Linked DNA regions of Homo sapiens. The protein of the gene in region 4 purifies or fractionates together with the protein of the main gene of each other region. This does not show direct contact. Each region holds a gene or a part of one and is shown on either strand. Other genes may lie near its edges. The genes, in order: TTC4, TOM1, PARP12, DDI2, ZNF222, ZNF578 and ZNF549.

Region 1 (3,500 bases), about 39 Mb from region 4:
GAAGAAAGTCATTGTTACAAATATAGAAAGGGAGAAAAAATCCTGTGGATGTTGAATTAAGAGTTGGAGATACCAATGAGACTTCATGGTCTCTCTCTCTCTCTCTCCTCTCTCCTCTCTTCTCTCTCCTCTCCTCTTCTCTCTCTCTCTCTCTCTCTCTCTCTCTCTCTCTCTCTCTCTCTCTCCTTTCTTTCTTTCTCTCTCTTTCTCCCCCAAGCTGTGGCACTGAGAAGGCATTGAGGCAGTAAGCTTGCCTCTCTACCCCCATTGTATTAATCGATACACTTATACACTTATTGCACAGAGATCTCGGCTTCTAAATACCATTCTTCACTAGAAAGAACCAGGGCTTCTTGGGAAAAAATAGCTAATTCCAGAGCTGGGGCAAGGAAAGCGCAATCTGAACCTAGAACATCCTATGTAAGAAAGCAACCACTTAAAAAATAGACACAAGTCAAAAGGACACAGAAACAAATTTGAAGAGATTCCCACTGGCCAAATCTGGGATATTCTGAGCATAAAAGAAACAATCATAGTAACAGATTAAAACTCATTAAATGAAACAGGAAACTATAAATCCACCAATATAAATAAATATGTTGAATATCTGACGAGCAATGGGATATTTACACCATTTCAAAGCATCTCCCTATAAAACACTTATTAATCATAAAGAAAAAGTAACTGTACAGTGGAGAAGGCTGGCAGACCCCACCTCAATCAGGTGATCAGAGTGAACATCATGAGTAATGGGACAAATGGAGATTATGTACCATCTGATAGGTGCAATGAGAATACAGCATCACTTCTGTAATATTCCAGCCAAATATGCATAATCCAGGCCGGGCATGGTGGCTCACACCTGTAATCCTAGCACTCTGGGAGGCCAAATCGGGCAGATCATTTGAGGTCAGGAGTTTGAGACCAGCCTGGCCAACACGGCAAAACCCCATCTCTATTAAAAATACAAAAAATTAGCTGGGCGTGGTATCTGAGTAGCTGTAATCCCAGCTACTCAGGAGGCTGAGGCAGGAGAATCGCTTGGACCTTGGAGGCAGAGGCTGCAGTGAGCCGAGATCACACCATTGCACTTCAGCCTGGGCAACAAGAGCAAAACTCCATCTCAAAACAAACAAACAAGTATGTATAATCCAAATCTAGTCAGAAGGAAACATGAGACAAACCCATACTGACAGACATTCTACAAAATAAGTGGTCTGTAATCTTCAAAGTGTCCTGCAGTTGAGTCACAGGATCACAAAAATATGAATAAAAATTTTTTAAGTAAAAAAAAAAAGTGGAGGAAAGACTGAGGAGCTCTTCCATACTGAAGGAGACTAAGGGGACATGATCACTAAATACAGTATGTGATTCTGAACAAAACCCTTTTGCTATAAAGAATTTGTGAAACCTGAATGGAGTCTGAGGGTTAGATGGTAACAGTGAATTAATGTAAATTTCCTGCTTTGATAGCTATATGGGTATTATAAAGAAAAATGTCCTTTTGTGTAGGAAATACACAGTAAAGTATTCAGGGGTAATGGGACATCAGCTGGCATCCTACTCTCAAATGTTAGAAAAAGGTAATTCTTTATACTGGATATTGTGATTTTTTATTTAAAAAATCCCAACAATGGAATGTTATTCAGCCTTAAAAAGGAAAGAAATTCTGGCTGGGCACGGTAGCTCACACCTGTAATCCCAGCACTTCTGGAGGCCAAGGAGGGCGGATCACTTGAGGCCAGGAGTTCAAGACCAGCCTGGCCAACATAGCAAAACCCCATCTCTACTAAAAATACAAACAAAATTAGCCAGGCTTGGTGGCACATGCCTGTAATCCCAGCTACCTGGGAACCGGAGGCATGAAAATCACTTGAACCAAGAGGCAAGGTTGCAACGATCTGAGATTGCACCACAGCACTCCAGCCTAGGTGACAGAGCGAGATTCTGTCTCAAAAAATAAAAATAAATAAAAAGGAAAACAATTCTGGTTGGGCATGGTGGCTCACACCTATAATCCCAGCACTTTGAAAGGCGGAGGTGAGTGGATCACTTGAGGTCAGGAGTTCGAGACCAGCCTGGCCAACATGGTGAAACCCCATCTCTACTAAAAATACAAAACTTAGCTGGGTGTGGTGGCACGCGTCTATAATCCCAGCTACTCAGGAGGCTGAGGCAGGAGAATCGCTTGAACCTGGGAGGCAGAGGTTGCAGTGAGCCAAGATCGCACCACTGCACTCCAGCCTGGGTGAAACAGCGAGACTCCGTCTCAAAAATTTAAAAAAAAAAGGAAATTCTGACACATGATACAATATGTAATGAACCTTGAAGACATTATGCTAAGTGAAATAAGCCAGACATAAAAGGACAAATACTGTATGATTCCACTTATATGAAGTACTTAGAGTTTCAATTTGGGAAGATGAAAAAGTTTTGGAGATGGCTGGTGGTGATAGTTGCACAACAATGTGAATGTACTTAATGCCACTGACCTATATACCTAAAAATGGTTAAAATGGTAAATATTATGTCATGTATATTTTACTATAATTTTCAAAAAAATAAAGCAGACTGCTTCCCCCGCCGCAAAAAAAAAAAAAAAAAAAAAAAAAATTAATTCCATAGAGGAACGAAATAAAACTTCTCTTACCTCCAAATTATCAGGGCAATATTTTTGCTCTAGGTCCCAAGAGGGTGTTTCACCAAACATCACCATTAGATGATCAATAAACCTAAGGATAAAACATGTACTTTCTGGGTATCAATAACTCATGATCTATTTTCCCACATCGGTCCCCAGACACTAATTCAAAGTTATCTAGAATGTATAAAACATGAAATGCAGGCTTAACCCATTTGACAGCAGTACCCCAAATGTGTATATGTATCACTTGTCCTATTATGACATAATTTTATTTTATTTTATTTTATTTTTTTTTTTTGAGACAGGGTCTCGCTCTGTCACCCTGGCTAGAGTACAGTGGCATGATAACAGCTCACTGTAGCCTCGACTTCCGGGCTTAAGCAATTCCTCTACCTTAGCCTCCTGCATAGCTGAGACTACAGGCACATGCCACCATGCCTGGCTAATTTTTTTCTTTTTTTTGTAGAGATGGGGGTCTCCCTATATTGCCCAGGCTGGTCTCAAACTCCTGGGCTCAAATTATCCTCCTGCCTCAGCCTCCCAAAGTTATTGGGATTACAGGTGTGAGCCCTGCACCTGACTGACAGGATTTTCTTTTTTTCTTTTCTTTTCTTTTTTTTTTTGAGACAAAGTCTTGCTCTGTCACCAAGGCTGGAGTGTGGAGTACAGTGGAACAATCTCTGCTCACTGCAACCTTCACCTTCTGGGTTCAAGTGATTCTCGTGCCCCAGGCTCCCAGACAGCTGGGACTACAGGCATGCACCACCATGCCCGGCTAATTTTTTATATTTTTATTAGGCACGGGATTTTGCCATGTTTGCCAGGCTGGTCTTGAACTCCTGGCCTCTAGTGATCC
Region 2 (3,500 bases), on a different chromosome or scaffold from region 4:
AAACAGAAGCTTCAAGATATTAGGGCTCACATGGGCACACTGTGGGGATAAGCACCCTCAAGCATCCCCAGTGTGGGTGCTCTGGTACCCCACTTTGAGGAACAGTGTGCTCCATCATTCTGCCTCTGGCCAGCTGCTCCGATTCAGAAGTCAGCAAACTATGAACCCATATGCCAAATTCAGTCTGTTTTGTATGGTACTCGAGCTACAGATGGTCTTTATATTTTTAAATAGTTGGGAAAAAAAAAAGCTGAAGAAGAATAATATTTCATGATATGTGAAAATTACGTGAAATTCAAATTTCATTGCCCATAAATATTTTTATTTATGCACAGTCATTCTCATTCATTTACCTATGGCCTATGTAGCTGCTTTTGTGCTATAATGGCAGAACTGGGTAGTTGCAGCAGAGACCATCTGGTTCACGAAGCCACAAGTATTTACTATCTGGCCCTTTATAGAAAAAGCTCACTGACCCTGGTCTAGTCTGCTAACCAACACAGGAATCCTCTTTATAGTCGCCCTCCCCACCCCGGCTTCTGCCTTCACAGCTCCAGTGGTGGGGAGCTCACTACTGAACAAGGCAGCCAGTTCCATCTTTGCAAGGCTCTGGGGATAGCTATTTATACTGAAACCGAACTGCTTATTCCTGTAACCACACACCATGCCCTTGGAGCCCTGCACATTCAGTTCTATCAGTCCTCCCCAGCACCCATCAGTTTTTTTTTTTTTTTTGAGATTGAGTCTCACTCTGTCACCAGGCTAGAGTGCAGCGGCGTGATCTTGGCTCACTGCAACCTTCGCCTCCCAGGTTCAAGTAATTTTCCTGCCTCAGCCTCCCAAGTTGCTGGGACTACAGGCGTGTGCCACCACGTCCAGCTAATTTTTGTATTTTTAGTAGAGACAGGGTTTCACCATGTTGGCCAGGATGGTCTCAATTTCTTGACCTCGTGATCCACCCGCCTCGGCCTCCCAACGTGCTGGGATTACAGGCGTGAGCCACCGTGCCTGGCCCGCCATCAGTTTCTTTCTTCCCTCTGGCATCAACCCTTCCCTGTCCCTATATATGACCTCTGTCGTTCCTTACCAATCCTCTGGGAAGCAGAGGGAGAATGACAGCACCTCTGTGTTGCCAATAGGGGAGATGGGCAATGGAGAGGGACCGTGACATAGTTAGGAGCAGAACCAGAGCTGGAACCAGGTGTCCCGCCTCCCAGCCTGGTGTCTCCTCAACATCGCTTAAGTGTCCACTTTCCAGCCCATCATTCCCCAACTGGCCCCCAAGGGCCTGAAGTGGTCTCTCACTTCTGTGATTCCTTCCTGTGGCTCCCCCGGCTTGGCTTTTGTGGATTCAAAGACAGCTCTCTCTGACTTTTTCACTTTTCCCCTCCAGGGCTCAGTCTTCAGGCTCTGGGCTCTTCTCCCCTCACACCCAGCTCCCACCACCCCAACCACTGAGGCTCATCCCCAGGGACTGCCCATATTTACCATCTCTGTTGTTTGCAACTTACTGTTGGCAATCAGCTAGGATTTGGACTCCAAGTGCTTAGGGGTAAGCTGACAGCCAGAAATGGAAAATGGGTTTCTTGATATCTGTCTATAAAACAGAGCCAGTAGGCCGGGTGCAGTGGCTCACGCCTGTAATCCCAGCACTTTGGGAGGCCGAGGTGGGTGGTTCATGAGGTCAGGAGATCGAGACCATCCTGGCTAACACGGTGAAACCCCGTCTCTACTAAAAATACAAAAAATTAGCCAGGTGTGGTGGCGGGTGCCTGTAGTCCCAGCTACTTGGGAGGCTGAGGCAGGAGAATGGCGTGAACCCGGGAGGTGGAGCTTGCAGTGAGCCGAGATCGCGCCACTGCACTCCCGCCTGGGCGACAGAGTGAGACTCTGTCTCATAAAAAACAAAAAACAAAAAACAAAACAGATCCAGTAAGATTTGTCTGCAGAGAATATCTGGAAAGGGTTTGAAATCCTTGAAAGAAGAGGGCTGTGACAACACCAGCTGGTACAAAGGATCTGGAATCCTCTCAGCTACGGGTGCTGCCCTTGGGAAGCTCCCCTACTCATCGATGAGGGGAGGGGCCTGCAAGTGTGAGACCCATGTACATGTCCTTATCTGAGGGTAGAATAAGAGTTGTGGCTCTTGGAGGGTGGGACAGACATCAATTCAAAAGAAGCACTGGGCAGCTCGAGGCAGTGTGGTGAGGGTACAAAAGAAGACCTGGGTCTGGATTCTGACCTTGAGTGGCTGTGGAACCCTGGAAAGCGATGCTTTCTCTTAGACTGACTTTTGGTGAAATGGGAAAAAAATAGCAAAACCGCACAGGGTCACCATGAGATTAATACCCAGGACGCTAGCAGAATACCTGGCAGAGTTATTATGGTGTTTGCTCACAAAATGTTACTTTCCTTTTCTCCCTTCCTCCTTCCTGCTATGTGCCAGGCACCGTGCTAGGTGCTGAGGGTCTGGAGAAATAAGGCACAGTTCCTGCTCTCAAGAGGTTCAGCCTAGCTGTGGAGACAGACATGCACAACCACTAACAGAGTGGGACGGTGGCATATTAGTATAATGAGGGTAGAAATAATAAAAATAAGCCAAGCGTGGTGGCTCACACCTGCAATCCCAGCACTTTGGGAGGCTAAGGTGGCTGGATCACTTGAGGTCAGGAGTTCAAGACCAGCTTGGCTAACATGGTGAAACCCCATCTCTACTAAAAATACAAAAATTAGCCGGGCATGGTGGTGTGCACCTCTAATCCCAGCTACTCGGGAGGCTGAGGCAGGAGAATCACTTGAACCTGGGGGGCAGAGGTTGCAGTGAGCTGAGGCTGTGCCACTGCATTCCAGCCTTTTTTGAGACTCTGTCTCAAAAAAAAAAAAAAAAAAGAAATAATAAAAATGATGATGGTGATGATGACAGGAAGAGCTAATGTTTCCATACACTCACACTGTGCGAGACACTCTCAGAGGACTATCTTGTTTCATTCCAGCAACCACCCTGTGAGGCAGATGCTGTTAGTAACATTCTACCAAGGAGGAAGCGGAGATTCAGAGCCCAAAGTCATAGGGCAAGGGGGCCTGAGGATCTAGGATAAAGGGAGAGTAAAAGAGCAACGTCGGGCTTGGGGCAAGCCTCAGGGAGGAGGTGATGATGCCCTGTACTTTGAAGGGTGATCTGGAGCTCCTCAGTGGGGGCACAGGAGCAAGCAACCCAGGCAGAGGGACCAGCAAGCACAAAGGGGTGTGTGTGTGTGTGTGTTGGGAGGGGAGGTGGATGAGAACTTTGTGATTCCAGTGACTGACACTCATTCCTGATTAGCATCATTAGAATCACCATCTGAGGGATGTCAATTCCATATGGCTCTACAGCTCTACTATCAACAAGGGCATGGGAGTCGGCAGGCTTGAGAAGAGATGGTACTCCTGCAGCAAGGAGGGGCCTGGTTTACAGAATTATAAGCAGCTATACTGTGTCATCAGTAATCACAGCCAGGGAG
Region 3 (3,500 bases), on a different chromosome or scaffold from region 4:
AACAAAAACAAAAATAAAGCCCACATCTGTCACTGCCCTCCTGCCCCAATTAGCCCCAGCCTTACAGCTTCTTCAGTGTTGAGGAATGGCACAGTCTGTTCACACACACCCACTTCTACAGAACACCTTCCTGTCCAGCCCCAGGCGCATGCGTCCCCTACCTGAAAGCCTGGGTCTGGCAGGGCAGAGGAGTCCCAATAGTCTGGGATGCTCTTCGGGCCTGGAAACTTGGTATTGCTACAAAAATGTAAACAAAAACACGTAGACATTTTATTCTTACACAAAGCAAATATACCATAGGTGGTCTCTGCTAGCCAATATCACCAGTCTTGAGTCTCAGCACATCATATTTCAAGAGCAGGTAGAAGGCAAGGAAGAATGTTAGCACGATATTCACAACATGAGAGCACTTTTATCTTTGCCTATGTAGCCAAACTCCAAACAGTCCTGAGAGATCTATTTCTCGCCTGTGTCCCAACTACCACACAAAAGGGATAAAAGGGATGGAGTACATGGTTAAAGGAGCACACACACAGCCATAAACCTTTATCCACAATTCTGAAATTCTAAGAGCTCTAAAGACATTTTTTTAAGGCCTCGATGAGGTATAATTGACATTTTAAAACTTTTTATACAGCTCAGGAAAAGCAGGAGAAAATATGAAATAAAACATTTTTTGAAAAACATAAAAGTGACATCAAAAGTCATTTGGCAGTAGAAATTTGACTGAAGTTAGTAAGAGGCCACTGTGATCTGTATCTATCCTTCTTAAACTGACTATGCATATTGTTTACTGCAGAAATATTAATGTGCTAAAATACAGAGTGTCACGTGATACAAGCATCACATTATCTTTCTAAAAATTAAATAAAAGCAGTTCAAAAGACATATGGATCAAGGGTTCAGGAACAAGGACTGTGAAACTATAATTACAAATCATTCCTATTAAGTTTCAGAATACACTGTTCTTTCTAAATAGATCTACCTTCTGTTTCTGCTGGCATGAAACATATACCTTCATCCTAAGCCTCAAAGAACTCCCACAAATAACTTTCCTGGGAAAATGGCACAGTTCAAAAATAACTAAGCAAGGTCCTACCAGCAAGAATCAGCCAAAAACAGACCCACAAAGACTTAAGATGCTGAAATTATCAGAGAGATTACAAAACAATTATTCTTCCTATGTTTAAAGGAAAAAAAAAGACAAACTTTAAAAACATATGCAAGGAACAGGAAACTATAAAAAGACCTGGAAGATCTAAAAAAGAACCAAATAGAACTTACAGAATTAAGTACAATCTTTAATAATAAAAGTGTAGTGGACAGGCTTAATAGCAGATTAGACCAGCTGGAGGAAGAATCAGTGAGCTGAAACATATGTGAAATGAAATTGTCCAGAATGTGGCCCACAGCAACAAGGAAATGGAAAATGCAGGAAAGAAGTTGAGACATGGAGAACAGTGAGAACTTGAATATGATCAGAACCTAAGTGAAGCTCTAGGAGAGGAGAGACAAGACAGTGGAGGCGATTTTCAAAGAGAACTGATGAGATGCACCTATCCGCAGCTTAAGAAGCCCAAAGAATCTCAACCATGATAAATAAAAGCACATACTTAGATACACTTTAGTGAGGATGCCTACCTCCAAGACAAACAGAAGCTCTTAAAAGTAGCCAAAGGAAAAAAGAGTGATTACTGTCAAAGAAGCACCTGTTAGACCAACAGGCAATTTCTCAAAAGCAACAGTGGAAGCCAGAATACAGTGGAGTGATCATCACAATGATCCAAGAGAAAATCCCTACAACCCAAAATTCTATACCCAGTGAAAATTTCCTTCAAGATTGATGGCAAAATAAATACATGTTGGCCAGGCGCAGTGGCCCACGCCTGTAATCCCAGCACTTTGGGAGGCCGAGGTGGGCAGATCACTTGAGATCAGGAGTTCAAGACCAGCCTGACCAACATAATGAAACCCCATCTCCACCAAAAATACAAAAATTAGCCGGGCATGGTGGCGCACGCCAGTAGTCCAAGCTACTCAGGAGGCTGAGACAGGAGAATCGCTTGAACTCAAGAGGCGGAGGTTGCAGTGAGCCAAGATCATGCCACTGCACTCTGGCCTGGGCGACAGTGCGACTCCATCTCAAAATACATACATACATACATGCATACATACATACGTACATACATATTCAGACAAACCAAAAACAGTTTTCCAACAAATCTTCATCGAAGGCAGCCTTGTCCAACCTGCAGCCCGCAGGCTGCATGTAACCCAGGACAGCTTTGAATGTGACCCAACACAAATCTGTAAACTTTCTTAAAACATTATGAGATTTTCTTGTGGTTTTTATTCTTTTAGTTCAGCTATCGTTAGTGTTAGTGTATTTTATGTGTGGACCAATTCTTTTTCCTCTAATGTGGCCTGGGAAAGCCAAAAGATTGGACACCCCTGATCTAAGGTAATCTGAAAGGACAAAGTGGTAAAAATGTGAGTAAATTTAATGAAACTTTCAGAGTATAAAATAATGGTGCCTCTTGAGGTTTAAAAAAAGTTGAGAGGAAGGCAAATGGAAGAAAAGATAGGAGGGCAAAGATATTGATTTACTTGTACTTAAGTGAAGAACATGTAGTTTCTACCATAGCCTTTAAAATATACATATACACAAAAGAAGGTAAGAAAAGAAAAAATAAGACCCAATCACATGAATGAAACATTTTCATAGAGGATGGGCAACATGGTGAGACCCTGTCTCCACAACAAATAAAAAAATTAGCTGGGCATGGTGGCGCATGCCTGTGGTCCCAACTACTTGGGATGCTGAGGTGGGAGGATTGCTTGAGCCCGGGAGGTGGAAGGTGCAATAAGCCGTGATCAGGTCACTGCATTCCATCCTGGGTGACAGAGTGAGACCCTGTCTCATAAATAAATAAATAAATAAATACATAAATAAATTTTACATGACACTCCTGTATTATGACTTCTGAATATGGACATTACATTTTATGACCTCATTAATTGTGTAAACAGAAAAGTTGTTTCTGAAAGTGATCTACCCTCAGATTCCCAATTGGCCATGCAGGCCCAGGCAGACTTGCTTACTGGAGTTAATGACAACCAGCTGCTGGCACATGGGTCAGAGAGAAGAACTGAACACTTCATCTGTGTGAACAGTGTGTGACACTCCGCTTACAGGAGACCCCAAATCACCCATATCTTAGTCTGAATCACTTTTAGTTTGGACATTTGGCATCTTCTTGTGGCCCCCTAAAAACTAAATTAGAATAAGAGAGATCTACTCTCAGAAAGCAGAGAGACTTTTCCAAACCTTGTCTAGGGTAGGCTTTGTATAGGAAAAGAATAAAAAATGACTTCCAGAAATAGGAGGGTCATAATCAACCAAAACTCTAAATCCAGAATCAGTAAGACACTGATACATTTAACTAAAATAATAAGAGATATATATTTATGGTAAAATACTTCACAGGCAAAGTCAAAAG
Region 4 (3,500 bases):
GACTCAAACAATCCTCTCACCTCAGCCTCCTGAGTAGTGGGGACCACAGGTGCATGCCACCACGCCCAGCTTTTTCATTTTTAGTAGAGATGGGAGTTTCGCCGTGGTGGCCAGGCTGGTCTTGAAGTAATCCGCCCATCTCGGCCTCCCAAAGTGCTGGGAATACAGGTGTGAGCCATCGTGCCTGGCCCAAAATGCGCATCTTTTACATCAGCAGGGAGCTGTCCTCCCGCAGTACTAATCTGGAAGTTAATGGCTTTGAGAGGCCCACTTCTTCTGGGGTTCAGGTACACGCCATAAATTACAATGTCTGGGTATAAGCTATTTAAAGGAGTAGGGAGATAGAGACAAGGACACCACCTTGTCTAACTGAAGTAACCACCTCAATTTAAAAGAAATTGATCAAACAGAAGTCTTATGATAAAAACTTTATTGTCTTAAATATCAAATGTTTTACACACCACTTTTTCTTCAGAAAGTTCCTATTTAAAAAAAGAAAAATAAAATAAAGTGTTTTGATTATTTAGGGCTGACTTACATTTCAGTATGTGACAAAAATTCAAACCCAAATGCATCTAGCTCACTCAGTTTCAGACAGGTCCTATGTTCAGCCCCTAAACGAATGGCACAATGCCACCAATTTTGGGATTCCTGAGTTTGGTTCCCTTAAGTTCTCAGAGTTTTCCCAACTCTCAAAACCAAAGCATCATGGGAGTGACAGGGCCACTGGCAAGACTTTTTGCCAGTCAGCCTAGTTCTTCTTTTAAGATGCAGTAGTCTCAAAGCTTAAAGTCAGAAAATCTTGCAATACAAGAGTAACTGCAAGAACATATAAAGAAGGAAAAGAAAGGACGGGGTTTCTAGTTGCTAAGATTTGCCAAACATGGCTACAAAACTGGTAAACAAACCTTTCTTGAGTGCAAAGTCCATTAGCCCAACTTGCCATGAAGAGATTTGAAATAAAAATGAACAAATCAATTTCTGTTGTAGATACAAAGCGAAAAAATAAAATTCAATCAATATATTGAATTTCTCTGAGTTTATCACTAGAACTATTTCAAAAGGATGATCGGGGATAGAATAGAAATCTAGTCATTCAAATGGGAAGGTCTTGGATGGGTGCCATAAACTCAGCTGTGAAGATTCAGGAAAGGAAAAATAAGTCTGGTCAGCATCAGGTAATCTCAGACAGAAGGAATCAGGAAACGAATCAGCCTGCCTCGGGAAGGAAATACAGGTCTACCATTTTTAGGCCATAGACACATTCATTCAGGGTTGTGTGTAAAACCAACTCTTGTAAACAAAATAACTTCCCATCAGAAATGCATGTTCCCAGGAAAAAAAATACTGCAGCATGCCCCCCTCCCCAAATTAGCTAATAAAAACCTTCTTGCAGAACATAAAGAAACCTAGTTCTGTATAAATTATCATAATTTTGTATTTCATGCCCCCACGACCCCAATCTTCCATAGTTGGCTTAACATTTTTAGGTAAAAGAAACATTCTCTAACCCCCATGCCCTTGAACCATTTTCTTGGCCGATTTCATTCCAGAAGATAGTGCCCTAAAACTTGTCAGCTCAGCTGTATCTTTTCACATTCTACAGCCTCCAGAGGGTCTAGATTACCAATCATCAATACATAACTGATAAACCTTTGAGAACATTTTCTAACTGTAAACCTCAGAAGTCACTAGTAGTTACGATCCAGAAATTCTACCTGTATGCTTCAGCATTACAACATATATGTGGCATTTAAAATAACAGGTTAAAAAATGTCCCTTTGATGAAGCTGTCCTGTAGACAGGCCTGGTAGAGCCTCAAATACTCCTGTCAATCCTGTCCACCAATCCCAGCCATCGCTGATTACATGTTCTGCTCTAGATTCCCGTTTTCACAAGTTGCACCCAGCTGCTTTAAAATAGCACATCCTGCAGAACCCTCTGCTAAGTCGTGCTAGCCCAGATGGTCAGTATTCCGGAGCAGCCGTGCTCACAAAGGGATGTGAGGAGGATGCTGCCGCACACTCCATGTTTCTACCCTGCATGTGAGGTGGTCTGATGGATTGACTGACTGTCACTGGTGCATTTTTAGGGTCATCTTCCATTTATTTGTTGCACTTCTTTCCTGGCCATCCCCTCTCCTCCAGCATTGTAAATGGATTTCTCAATAACTGATCTCCTCAGGCATTTATACATGTTACATATTTTGTTGGTTTCTCTGATTCCATTTAAAAAAAAATTTTTTTTTTTTTTGAGACGGTGTCTCACTCTTGCCCAGGCTGGAGTACAGTGACGTGATCCCGGCTCACTGCAACCTCCGCCTCCCGGGTTCAAGCGATTCTTCTGCCTCAGTTTCCCGAGTAGCTGGGACTACAGGCATGTGCCACCATGCCCGGCTAATTTTTTATTTTTAGTAGAGGTAAGGTTTCATCATATTGGCCAGGCTGGTCTCGACCTCCTGACCTCATATCCACCCACCTTGGCCTCCCAAAGTGCTGGGATTACAGGTGTGAGCCAACGCACCTGGCCTAAAAAAATAGATTTTTAAAGAGCTGTTTTAGGCCCACAGCATCTGATTCCATTGTAAGCCTGATTTTCCCAGTCTGCTCTGAAGTGGAACCAGGTAACTCTAATATGACTTTTAAAATAAATGCATGCTAACAGGCAAAAATAGATGTTGCTTTTGAAGCTAAAATTTGTTTCACGTCTCCCTTCTAGACTGAAAGCTTCACAAGGGCAGGGTTCCAATCTGTTTTAGTTACCCCTGAATCCCCAGAGTTCACCTGTGCCTGGCACACAGGCACTCAGTATTTGATGAATGAATCAAAGTAGCAAGGAATTCTTGTTCAAAGACTCATGTTGCATAGCCTTCAAGAGTACCAATTTCCTTTCAAATATGTAAGATCTTCTTGAACTTTTCTCTCCCTTAACCAGCACAACATTGATAGTAAAACAAAGAACATAAACATCTAAAAACTGTTTTTGGTGATTCAAAAATCCCTATTATAATCATAGCACTAAAGAAATCTAATGGTCTGATGCAGGATAACTGTGAATCAACTCAGTCAAGGTGAGCCTGAGGACCACTCTGTGTGCCCTCCATCTCCAGGAGAGCTATTTTCAAACTTTCCCCTAATACTCCTCTCATTCCCCACCAAAATTTGATGCCTCTGCTATTCAGAGAAACTAAGGCACAAAAGAAAATCAAGCACATCGAAGGTTCACTCCTAAGTTCATTCAGTGAACTCCTAGTAACACCTACTGAGGAATCACTAAGGTATAAAACTTGAACCATGATTTTACATTTCCAGTTCTCAAGGACAGGCTTTGAATTTAATTTGTTGTTAAGAGTAATTAGCAATTCTAGGGAAAAAAAAGCTATTTTTATTTTCTCTACCTCCTAACACAAAAGGTAACATTCATCTTCTAGGAAGGGAAACTCTTGATAACTCTGTGTCTTTCTAGGTCAGCCACAGACTACACTAAGTCACCAACTCCAA
Region 5 (4,037 bases), on a different chromosome or scaffold from region 4:
AGAGTGGCAGAGGAAGCATGACTATGGAAGAATGGTCAGGGATGCAATGTAGCTGCTTTTGAAGATGGAGGAAGGGAAACAAGAGCCACGGAGTGTGGACAGTGACTAGAGACTGGTAAACCAAAATGAAGTCTTCTCCCCATGAACATCCAGAAAGGAACAAAGCCCTAAGACCACTTGATTTTTGCCCAGTGAGATGTGTCAGACTTCAGGCCTACAGAAGAGAAAGATAAGTGTTTCTTGTTCAGTCTGCTGAGTTTTATGTCACCGGCCACAATAGGCAATACAATGTCCTTGGCAGGATAGAGAAACAGCAGGGAGGACAAGGTGCCTGGAAAAGATGGAGCAAGGGGGAGAGGACAGGAGATGCAGTCAGACAGTGTGGGATGAAGGGCAGATCACAGGGTCTACAAAAGCCACTTAAAGAGGTTGTAACACTAATAAAAACAAGAAGCCAGAAAGGCTTTGAGCTGAGGAATGGCAATGTGACTTCCGTTTCCTACGGATCACTTTGGCTACCGTAAGAACAGATGGCAGGGTGGGAAGGGTGGGAGCAGGGGCATCAGCAGGGAGAAGGCTGTAATAATCCAGGAAACAGGTTTGGCCATTTACCCCAAAATGCTGGAAATGGGCATGGACAGAAGTAACAGGAATCACATGCAGGGACACACAATTGCTTGGTTCTTACCCAAATTCCCTTCTCTTTGGCTTGTTGTCCCCATCACCCAAAACTTTTCTTCCCTTAGGAAGTGGAAAGTATCTCCATGGAATGGTTGATGCCCTGTGAACAGGCAAAGTCACATGCTTAATCCCAACATGTTCAAGGTAATATCATGTTGGTGCAAACGTAATTGCAGTGTACCATTACTTCCAATGACAAAAACCACAATTACTTTTGCACCAACCTAATAGCCAGGCAAAATTTACTGGAAATGTAGGTTCTCACTGCACACTCAAACTTGAAAACCCTAGGATTAAAAAACCACTCCTGGGGCCTGACATTCCATTACAGGGGGTGCCCGTCCTCACCCACTGAGAGCAGGTTCCTGAAGTTCTCAAGCATCACATCTCGGTACAGCTTCCTCTGGGCAGGGTCCAGCAGCCCCAGCTCCTCCTCAGTGAAGATCACAGCCACATCCTTGAAGGTCACTGCCTCCTACAACATCAAGCAGATGTCACCTCAATCTTACGGCCAAAGACTATTGGGAGACAGCAGCATTGCACTGGCACAAGGGACAAGTGTAAAGTTGTTTTGGATCTTGAGAGACATAGGTCAGCTTATAGATTTCCTACTTATTCTGTTTGTGTCCTGACAATGACTGATTAGGCAATAGGGGTTTGGAATGGAGACTGCACACACCAGTCAACAGGGTGTGTCCTGAATAAATAGTGGGTAAAGGACATTTACTGAGATGCTATCTCTAACTCCACTTCAGGAAAGCTTGCTGCAGAGTTAGAGTGATATAGTCCAAATGCTCTGTTTGAGTCGCGGGCCCTTTGACGAAAATGAGACTGAGGCAGGAGAATCACTTGAACCCGAGAGGCGGAGGTTACAGTGAGCCAAGATTGCACCACTGCACTCCAGCCTAAGCAACAAGAGCGAAACTCTGTAAAAAAAAAAATATATATATATATAGAGAGAGAGAGAGAAAGAAAATAGTAGATAAGGTTAAAAAAATTAAAAAGCAAAAAGCAAACAAACAAAAACTCCTATAGAAGTCCAAGCCCCTGAGCCTTGCCTCAAGGTGCCTTCAATCAAGTCCTAACTTACGTTCTCCACCTGTTCCCAGCTAGTACCTCTGCCTCAATGAGAATTGCATTCAAGAGATGATCAACTCAGGCTCTAACCTGGACTGCCTAGGTTTCAACTCCTGCTCCACCTGTGTCTCACGCCCATCTTTAAAATGAAAAAAGCAGCACCTCTCCACAGTGCCACTGTGAAGATCATGTATTTTGGGGTATAAAGTACTTGGAATAAAGTTACCAATTAAGGCTTAATCATTATCGACACCCATGCCCGAGGGACAAATCCTACACACTCTCGGTTGAGGTAAGCATCTCTGTCAAAGAAAAAAAGCCAAGGATCACTCACGTAGAGCTTTGCCATCAGTAGCCAAGAAGTCCCTTCCTGCAGCTCTTTTAGAAAGGTCGGGCTGGGGAAAAAGAAAGCTGTGAAACACCCTGACCGTTTTGCCGTCCCCCATAAAAGTTAAATGCTCCCCTCACTTTCCTAAAAAGAGGTCAGAAGGCGTCAGGGATCATCCAGCGTCCTGCAGGGATCAGGCAGAAGGGCCGGCGCCCCTGCAGCTGGAGCTCTGACCCCACCAGAGGACCTGACAGGCTTCGTGGGAAATTAACAAGAGACCACCAGACACCGAGTGACAGGGACTGCTTTTAAGGCTCTCATTTGTGTTACCTCTTTCAGGTCCCAAAATGAATCCATTAGGATGGTCCGAAAAGTCCCGTTACAAAACAAACAAACAAACGAACCAGCAATGGAAGATAAACGGACATTAAGTGACACTCCACACCACACTGAAAGGGGCTGCACACGTAGGGAGGAGGGAGGCGGACTAAGCGAGGTCAAAGTAGGGCACACCGGGCCGCGCCAATCCCACTCCCTGAGACCCTAGCAGAGCCCCCCGACGCCAGAAGGCTCAGCTGACTGGAACGGCAATCCCCGCCCGCGCCCCTCCAAACCTCTGCTCTCCGCCCAGGCTTCTTTTCTCCTGAATCGATCATTGGGTGGTTGCGAGCCCCAAGGAAAGGAGACTCGTTCGGAAGGACTCGCAAGATGTGGAAATGACTCAAACTACTGTGGTAAATGAAATAGCAACGTCACAGTTGGGGACCGGAAGTGCTCGAGCCTCCACAGAGCGTGTGGACTCCACTTCCCAGAATTCCCCGGACTCGCCCGTGTGAGACAAAGGGCCCGCGACTCAAACAGAGCATTTGGACTATATCACTCTAACTCTGCAGCAAGCTTTCCTGAAGTGGAGTTGGAGATAGCATTTCAGTAAATGTCCTTTACCCACTGCTTATTCGGGACACACCCTGTTGACTGGTGCGTGCAGTCTCCATTCCAAACCACTATTGCCATTCCTATCGCTTCCATAAAGCCTAAGAAATCAAATATTTTCTTTCTCTGCCTTCATCTAGCTAGAAATTTTCATGGGACACAATTTTGGGAAGTGAGACATTAGGAGAAGTGAGCTGTCCTCTCCTGACAAGAAATGTGCTTGGCAGGCTGTGAGTACACGAGGAGTTGAAAGAGTAAAAAGGTGATCGTCTCAGTGGACTGTAGGTATTGGCGAGGTTCTAATATTACTGATGCTAGCATGCTGGTGGGACCAAGGTGGAAATACAAGTCAAAGTTGTTGGAGAGTAGTGCTGCAAATTATTATGGAGGAATATTTGCTAGAAAATGACGAGGTCTAAAATATGACCATGGGAGAGAGTGTCCCTTGATATTTCACATGAATCTCAGGTGGATTTTTTCATTTCTGAGAAAAATGTTACTGTGATTAAGGATTGCATTGAATCTATAGATATAGGTATTGACAGCCTTGCAATATCAAGTCGCCCAATCCATTAATAATGGATATATCTCCATTTATTTGCGCCTTCTTTAATTTTTTTTTTTTTTTTTTTGAGACAGAGTCTCACTCTGTCGCCCAAGCTGGAGTGCAGTGGCACAATCTTGGCTCACTGCAACCTCCGCCTCCTGAGTTCAAGCGATTCTCCTGCCTCAGCCTCCCAAGTAGCTGGGATTACAGGCACGTACCACCATACCTGGCCAATTTTTGTATTTTTAGTGAAGACAGGGGTTTCACCAGGTTGGCCAGGCTGATCTCGAACTCCTGGCCTCAAGTTATTCGCCTGCCTGGGCCTCACAAAGTGCTGGGATTACAGGCATAAGCCACCATGCCTGGGGTGCCTTCTTTAATTTTCTTTAGTAAGATGTTGCAAAATTCAGTGTCCAAGTGTTTCTTGTCATTGGTTAAGACAGTTCCTAAGTAATTTATTTATTTAATGCT
Region 6 (3,500 bases), on a different chromosome or scaffold from region 4:
TTGTGTATTTTTAGTAGAGACGTGATGTCACCATATTGGCCAGGATGGTCTTGAACTCCTGACCTTGTGATTTGCCCACTTTGGCCTGCCAAAATGATGGGATTACAGGAATGAGCCACCTCGCCTGGCCGCTTTTTTTTTTTTTTTTTGTAAGACAGAGTGTCACCCTATCACCCAGGCTGGAATGCAGTGGAACAATCTTGGATCACTGCAACCTCTGCCTCCCGGGCTCAAGTGATCTTGCGTCAGCCTCCCAAGTAGCTGGAACCACAGATGCACGCCACGATGCCTGGCTAATTTTTTGTATTTTTGTTAGAGATGGGGTTTACTATGTTGCCCGTGTTGGTCTCAGACTTCTTGGCTCAAGTGATTGGCCTGCCTCAACTACCCAAAGTGTTGGGATTTCAAGGGTGGGTCACCATTCCTGGCTGGTCTTGGAATTTTCTAGAGGAGGAAGACCAAGGCAGCCTATTGGCCCTTTCAGGCCATCACATTGGAATCAGCCACACCTCCTTCCTCCTCACCTCAGAGCTTCTCAGGATAACTTGGTGAAATGTCTCCCGCTGTGAGCCTTAGTGAGCCCACCTGTAACATAGAGGTGAGGAATAAGATCAGAAAAGCTCAGTCAGTGACACTGACCCCTGAAACGACTGACAAAATACAGTGTGTGACTTTTCTTCTGGGAGAGGATAATGGTCATTTTTAACTCAAATTTCAAATGAATTCCAGTTCTCCAAGATGAGCAAAAACAGGGGATTAGACTCAAATCACCTTGAAGGTTATCATCTCACAGCTTTCACCCACCTACACGACTCCATGTCCCCTGCAGGCCTCAACCCTGAGCTCTACAATCCTGTGTCCAGTAGTCTCCTCAGCTCTCTCCTGGGACATCAAACAGGCATCCCCACCTTCAGCTGTCCATAAGTGACTTCCTAAATCCCCAAACACATTCCCTTGCAGTCTGCACATCTCAGATGAGAGTGAATGTGTACTTCCGAAAACTTAGCTGAACTTGACAGCACATATTTTAAATATGGGAAATACATTACATTATTTGTAAGTGTTGTAATTTATAATACATAGAGAAACGTACATGTATATGTGAAAAGAGTGAGAAGATACATCACTTCCAAATCGTTTTTTTTTTTTTGAGATGAATTTTCACTCTTATGGCTGAGGCTGGAGTGCAATGCCATGATATCAGCTCACTGCAACCTCTGTCTCCTGGGATCAAGGGATTCTCCTGCCTCAGACTCCCGAGTAGCTGGGATCACAATCGACTTTCAAAATGCTTTTGGGTTGTGGGAGAAAAATGTTTGAAGACCATGTCCCTATGGGTCTGTGCCCCCAGGACCTCTCTGACCTCATCTCCTACCTGTGCCCTCCTCTCTTCCACTGTTCCAGCCCCACGGGCCGCTTTCCTTTTCCTGGGGCTGAGGTTGCTCCTGTCTCAGGGCCTTCACTTGAGCTGTCCCTCTCTCTAGGATGCTCTTCCCCTCAGCTGCAAGTGACAAGCAGCCTTTCTTTCCTAGGTCCTTGTTCTGATATCATCTTCTCCGGGTCTCCTTTGTGATCTCCCACAGCCCTCATTCGACACTGCGGCTGTGAAATCAGAAAATCTTACAGAGATCTCAGTTAATTTAGAAAGTTTATTTTGCCCAAGGTGGTCGGCGCAGAGCTTAATTTTATACATTTTATGGAGACATGAGACATCAATCAATATATGTAAGAAGTACGTTGGTTTGGTCTGGGAAGGTGGGAGAACTTTAAACAAAGGCAGGAAGACTTGAAGCAGGGAAGGGGCTTTTAGGTCACAGAGAACTGAGGCACAAATGGTTGCAATCTTTTGAGTTTCCTTTTTTTTTTTTTTTTGAGATGAAGTCCCATTTTGTCACCCAGGCTGGAGTGCAGTGGCACGATCTTGGCTCACTGCAACCTCTCCCTCCTGGGTTCAAGTGATTCTCCTCCCTCAGCTTCCCAAGTAGATGCCCAGATCATTTTTGTATTTTTAGTAGAGATGTCTTTTCACCATGTTGGCTGGGACGGTGTCGACCTCTTGACCCCAAGTGATCTGCCTTCCTCGGCCTCCCACAGTGCTGGGATTACAGTCCTGAGCCACTATGCTGGGTCTTTCTTTTGAGTTTGATTAGCCTTTCAAAGGAGGTACTCAGATAGGCATGTATGTCAGGGAGCAGAGGGGTGACTTTGAATAGAAGGGGAGTCTGGTTCCCTAAGCAGTTCCCAGCTTGACTTTTCCCTTTTGCTTAGTGATTTTGGGCCCCAAGATTTATTTTCCTCTGGTCCACATTGACTGTTTTGTGTGACTTTTTTTTTTTTTTTTTTTGAGATAGAGTCTTGCTCTGTCACCCAGGCTGGAGTGCAGTGGTGGGATCTCGGCTCACTGCAACCTCTGTCTCCTGGCTTCAAGCAATTCTCCTGCCTCAGCCTCCTGAATAGCTGGGATTATGGGCACCCGCTACCATGCCCAGCTAATTTTTGTACTTTTAGTAGAGAAAGCATTTCGCCATGTTGGCCAGTCTGGTCTTGAAGTCCTGACCCTGTGATCCAGCCGCCTCGGCCTCCCAAAGTGCTGGGATTATAGGCGAGAGCCCCTGCGTCTGGCCTCTTTGTGATTATTTTTGTGCCTTTGTCATCCACTGTCTGGATCCTGGTGAGAACTTGGCCCCAAGCGGAGGGCAGAGCCAGAACGTGGGGCTGTGCTGGGCTCGCCCCCTCTGAGTGGAGCTCAACCCTGGCTTCACATTAGAGTGCGGAGCATTTTGCAAATAGAGCTTTTGTGCCGCTTTAGCAGGGATTCTTATTCTGACGGGATGGAACCCACCCTCAGTAATACCTGCAGTGGCGCAGGTGCTTGTCATCTGTGTGCAGCATTGAGCATGGAAGCTCTGAGTCCTGCATTTCTGAGGGCTGAGCTCAGCCTGTGATCCACAGAGAGGTGAGGGGCTGTCCTCTGGATGCGGTTTGATCAGGGATGGGTCTGTGCCCTGAAGGAGAGATCAGTCCAGCCCAGCTCCCCACTGCTGCCTCGTGTGTGGTGGCTGCTCCAGGAGGGGGGCGAGATCTGAAGACCAGGGTCAAACATACACTTATAGGTCTTCCTGTGGGACTTTCTTATGTCTGCATGATCTCTGGTGCAGTGGGCAGTGGGGGGGGCTTCTTTGTACAGGGTGATGTCTCCCCGTTCCTGTGTTTTTATCACAGGAAGGGAGTGAGTCATATCTAACCTGAAGTCTTATTTTTCTTCCACATACAGGATTGATTTCTAAAGACTCATGTTACATGAGGAAGCAGCTCAGAAGAGGAAAGGAAAGGAGCCAGGCATGGCTCTTCCTCAGGTGAAGTGATATTCCTCTGTGGATTAATCTGTCTCTTTCCTTTCTGAAGTGTAGTAGTATTATATTGTATTGTAGTAATGTATTGTAACAGCCAGTCTTTTCTGAGTCTGAAGCATTTTGCCTGACACGTTTGCTTGCACTCAC
Region 7 (4,234 bases), on a different chromosome or scaffold from region 4:
CTCTGAGGCTATCTAGAGACTCCACCTTGTCTGCTCACCCTAAGCCATCTCATAAAACTCAAGTATAGAAGTCTTCCCTTATCAGCTGTTTTGCTATTTGCAGTTTCAGTTACCCACACTCAACTTCAGTGTGAAAATTATAAGTATTAAATTTCAACTTCAGTCTGAAAATAGTAATATTAAAATTCCAGAAATAAACAATTCATGTTTTAAATAGTGCACCATCCTTTATTTATTTATTTATTTATTTATTTTATTTATTTATTTTTGGAGACGGAGCCTCGCTCTGTCGCCCAGGCTGGAGTGTAGTGGTGCAATCTCGGCTCACTGCAAGCTCTGCCTCCCAGCTTCACACCATTCTCCTGCCTCAGCCTCCGGAGTAGCTGGGACTACGGGCGCCCACTACCACACCTGGCTAATTTTTTGTATTTTTAGTAGAGACGGGGTTTCACCATGTTAGCCAGGATGGTCTCGATCTCCTGACCTTGTGATCTGCCTGCCTCAGCCTCCCAAAGTGCTGGGATTACAGGTGTGAGCCACTGCGCTGGCCAACAGTGCACCATTGTAAGTAGTGTGAGGAAATCTCACTCTATCGAGTTTAGTCCCTTCTTCATCACAAGGGTGAATAGTACAGTAAGATATTTAGAGAGATACCACATTCACATGTTTTTTATAATTTAACTTTTGCTTTTTTATTGTCTCAACTGCAGTTACTTAACTTTTATTAACTTATAAAGTATAACTGTTCTATATTATTTCCAGTTATTATTGTTCATCTCCTATACTGCCTCATTTATAAACTGGATTTTATTACAGGTATGTAGTCTAGGAAGAAACATAGTATATATAGGTTGGGTACTATCTGCAGTTTCAAGCCTCCGCTGGGGTTCTTGAAAGGTATCCTCTGAGGATAAGGGGGAACTACTGTTCAGACATTCATTGTTCAACTACTAAATGGTATAGCCTATTGCTCCTAGGCTACAAACCTGTACAGCAAGTTACTATACTAAATACTGTCAGCAACTGTAACACAGTGATAATTATTTGTGCATTTAAACATTTATAAACTTAGAAAATGCAGTTTGCCTCCTGATCAGAAAGAAAGAAAATGAAAAGGTACAGTAAAAATATGGTATCATAATCTTATGGGACCACCGTCACTGATGTGGTCAACACTGTTGTTATGCGGTCCATGACTTATCACAAGACACTTTTCACTGAGGAAATTACAACGATTTTAGGAATTCTGTGCCAGGAAAGCATGACAAAAAACAAACATTTATTTTTTATTAGAGCACAGAGTTATAGTGACATTTTATTCGGTTAACTAATTGCTTGCATAAATTTAATTTGTTAAATCTATACAGTCTAAACTTGTATTTTCCTGGGAGAGCTGCTCTTGCTGGGCTTGGGCTTCTCTGCTAGTCTGGCTGACCTTTCTCTGGCTCCACATAGAGTGAACAGTTCGCCAAGTCTTCTGAATGGTGACTCTACACAGTGTCCCACCCTCAAATCCATCCTATGCAGTGTGTATTCCTTACACATTCCCTTTGGAAGTACCCCCGGAACCCCATGGCCCTCCTATCTGCAGGCAGCTTCGCCAAGGCCGACCCACACTTTCCCAGCCTCCAGCCTCAGCCCTCCCTCTCTTCATCTCAAAGTAAAACCTTAAGATTTCCCGTCTAAATTTAAGGCTTGGCTTGAGTCTACGCCCCAGCCTGTCTCCATTTACACATCACTGAGTCAGTCCCCTCCCATGAATTTTCTACTTATGATTCCAACTGCCCATGTAACAACTTCACTCTGTGGCAATTTAGAAACACCACGTCCAAAATTCAACTCCTACTATTTCCCTGAAACCTGCTCCCTCACCAGATTTCTTTGTCAACTCTTCCAGATGTTCAGGTAAAAGAAAAACTTGGGATCATACTTCACTCCCACTTTTGCTCATAGGCACAAATGATGGAGCAGAAAATCCTGCTGGCTTTACCTTTAAGATCTACCAAGATTCTTATTACTTAGGTCCCTTCAGCAACCCGTCTGGTCCAGAATCCACCATAATCCTCCTGGAGCCTACTACAGCAGTCTCCTCACCAGTATCCCTGCGTCCACCCCCATCACTCCGTAACAGTCTGTTTTCTCCACTCATTGCCTTTGAAATATTTTTTCAGACCCTCACTCAGATCGTGTTCTCCTTTAGTTCACAACCCTCCATGGCTCCCAAAGACTCAGAATTAAAAACCCCGGTTGCTCAGGCTGCCATGGCAGCCGTGCCTTCTTCTCCTCATTCTCTCTGCTCCCTGCAGACACAGGTCCGCCCCCAAGTTTCCGAATGCTCGCGACCCCGGCGCACCTCCCAGGCTCTGCGCGTGCAGCCCCCACGGTACGCAACGCTCTCCCTTCTTCACCTCACCGCCCGTCAGCTCTGAGGACCCCACCCAGAACTCCTCGCTGTCCTGGAGAAGAGGCCTGAACTGCAGAGACCCACGCAGGTGACCCCAGTCCGGGGCCTCAGGACCCAGGTGAGGATCCGAGGACTCCGCTCTCACCTGCGGCGTAATCACTAGCGCTGCCTCGGCCATGGGACTTTAGGCGGGGCGGGGCCTGGAAAGGCGGGCGGTAAAGCCCGGGATCCGGCGTGCGTGCGGTGGCAAATCGCTGGGCGACGCTCAGACCGAGACCAGGCAAGCTCCTCTGCGGGCGGACACCACCTCCACCGGTTTCCGGCTCCAGTTACCTGGCCCGGACCCAGCGAGCCGGAAACGCCCAGCCCGCGGACGCGCTCGCAGGCAGCAAAAACGACCACCACCGGAAAGACGCCGGAAGATTCTGGCGTATTGCGCACTTACGGAGGTGCCCCTTTCCTGGGCAATGATTGGTCTAAGGCCCCGGCACGCTCGGCGCACAGTATTCTGGGTGGTGTAGTTCCTACCACGCCGCAGTCCGCCGCGCTGTGAGGACTCAATCCAAGAAAGAGAGGACAAAGGAAAAAACCCATCAAACTAGGGTCAGCAAAGCCTATTACATACACAGGATAAAAGAATACGATTTGATCTTCATTTCTCAACACAAAAGTTGACATATATTGCATACAATACATTAAAAATGTTGACAATTGAGAATTGACGCGACCCTTAATTTTTTTCTTTTTTTTAATGTAGAAACTATAACCAAAAATAAAATTCAAAGGCCTCCCAACTATCTGAATGGACCCCCTCCTCTCAGCATTATAGAGTTAACCTGAAAATCTAGTTCAGGCCATTATGGAAGAAGGGGTTGGACATGCCTCATTCTACCCCTACAGCAATAACATCAGCATAGACCTTAAGTCTGATAAGAAACATTTACAATCTATTTCTCTGAAACTTGCTACCTGCAGGCTTCATCTGTATGATAAAACCTGGGTCTCCAACCAAGGTGATCACTAACAGTGGGGTCAGCATCCCCTTATCCCACACGTTTGTGTTTATTCTGTTTTTTTGCCCTCAAGTGTTAGTGACTTAAATTACATAATGTATCTATTATCATAAGTGGAACTGAAATGAGATTGCAGAAACATTATATCTTCTTTTTCTTTTCTTTTTTTCCTTTTTTTTTTTTGACAGAGTCTCACTCTGTCGCCCAGACTGGAGTACAGTGGTGCAATCTCTGCTCACTGTAACCTCCACCTCCCAGGTTCAAGCGATTCTCCTGCCTCAGCCTCCCGAGTAGCCGGGACTACAGGCATGCGCCACCACCCCCGGATAATTTTTGTATTTTTAGTAGAGACAGGGTTTCACCATGTTGGCCAGGCTGGTCTAGAACCGGCCTCAAGTGATTCGCCTGCCTTAAAGTGCTGGGATTACAAGCATGAGCCACCATGCCTGGCTTTTTTCCCCCATATTTAGCAATTAGCTTTTGTTGCTATCCATTGTCTTCATTTCTCTTTAGTTTTTAATTGTTTATAATTTTGACATTTTATAATTACTTAAGAAAGGTTAGAAAAATTACCATTTAGATTGGAGTCATATTAAATAAGACACCTATATTGTAAAAATATCTTTATGAATGTAATCTTTGGCTATAGTGTTGTAACCGAGCGAGTTATAGAGAAATGCCACACTCTGAGACTAATTCTGGAGTCCTTTTATTGCCAGCGACCGAGAGACAGCTAGAGCTCAAAATTCTTGGCCCCGAAGAAGGGGCTAGATTTCTTTTTATACCTTGATCTAAATAGGGGAGGGGGAGTTTAGCT

The links.
Region 1: the proteins of DDI2 (region 4) and TTC4 fractionate together in Homo sapiens (co-fractionation; one large-scale study listed by BioGRID). This does not show direct contact.
Region 2: the proteins of DDI2 (region 4) and TOM1 fractionate together in Homo sapiens (co-fractionation; one large-scale study listed by BioGRID). This does not show direct contact.
Region 3: the proteins of DDI2 (region 4) and PARP12 purify together in Homo sapiens (co-immunoprecipitation; one large-scale study listed by IntAct). This does not show direct contact.
Region 5: the proteins of DDI2 (region 4) and ZNF222 purify together in Homo sapiens (co-immunoprecipitation; one large-scale study listed by IntAct). This does not show direct contact.
Region 6: the proteins of DDI2 (region 4) and ZNF578 purify together in Homo sapiens (co-immunoprecipitation; one large-scale study listed by IntAct). This does not show direct contact.
Region 7: the proteins of DDI2 (region 4) and ZNF549 purify together in Homo sapiens (co-immunoprecipitation; one large-scale study listed by IntAct). This does not show direct contact.

Annotation. Positions count from the first base shown.
Region 1 is NC_000001.11:54,732,861-54,736,360, reverse strand, and holds part of TTC4 (tetratricopeptide repeat protein 4), read right to left. Parts: intron 2,733-3,500; coding exon 2,651-2,732; intron 1-2,650.
Region 2 is NC_000022.11:35,302,894-35,306,393, reverse strand, and holds part of TOM1 (target of Myb1 membrane trafficking protein), read right to left. Parts: intron 1-3,500.
Region 3 is NC_000007.14:140,028,452-140,031,951, forward strand, and holds part of PARP12 (protein mono-ADP-ribosyltransferase PARP12), read right to left. Parts: intron 238-3,500; coding exon 162-237; exon of another isoform or gene 161-161; intron 1-160.
Region 4 is NC_000001.11:15,665,958-15,669,457, reverse strand, and holds the end of DDI2 (protein DDI1 homolog 2), read right to left. Parts: 3' UTR 414-3,500; downstream 1-413. UniProt on the Homo sapiens protein: Aspartic protease that mediates the cleavage of NFE2L1/NRF1 at 'Leu-104', thereby promoting release of NFE2L1/NRF1 from the endoplasmic reticulum membrane.
Region 5 is NC_000019.10:44,024,142-44,028,178, reverse strand, and holds the start of ZNF222 (zinc finger protein 222), read right to left. Parts: upstream 2,801-4,037; 5' UTR 2,743-2,800; coding exon 2,701-2,742; intron 2,154-2,700; exon of another isoform or gene 2,108-2,153; coding exon of another isoform or gene 2,093-2,107; intron 1,157-2,092; coding exon 1,030-1,156; intron 782-1,029; coding exon 689-781; intron 1-688. UniProt on the Homo sapiens protein: May be involved in transcriptional regulation.
Region 6 is NC_000019.10:52,498,553-52,502,052, forward strand, and holds part of ZNF578 (zinc finger protein 578), read left to right. Parts: intron 1-3,274; 5' UTR 3,275-3,293; coding exon 3,294-3,356; intron 3,357-3,500. UniProt on the Homo sapiens protein: May be involved in transcriptional regulation.
Region 7 is NC_000019.10:57,525,922-57,530,155, reverse strand, and holds the start of ZNF549 (zinc finger protein 549), read right to left. Parts: upstream 2,801-4,234; 5' UTR 2,583-2,800; coding exon 2,550-2,582; intron 2,547-2,549; exon of another isoform or gene 1-2,546. UniProt on the Homo sapiens protein: May be involved in transcriptional regulation.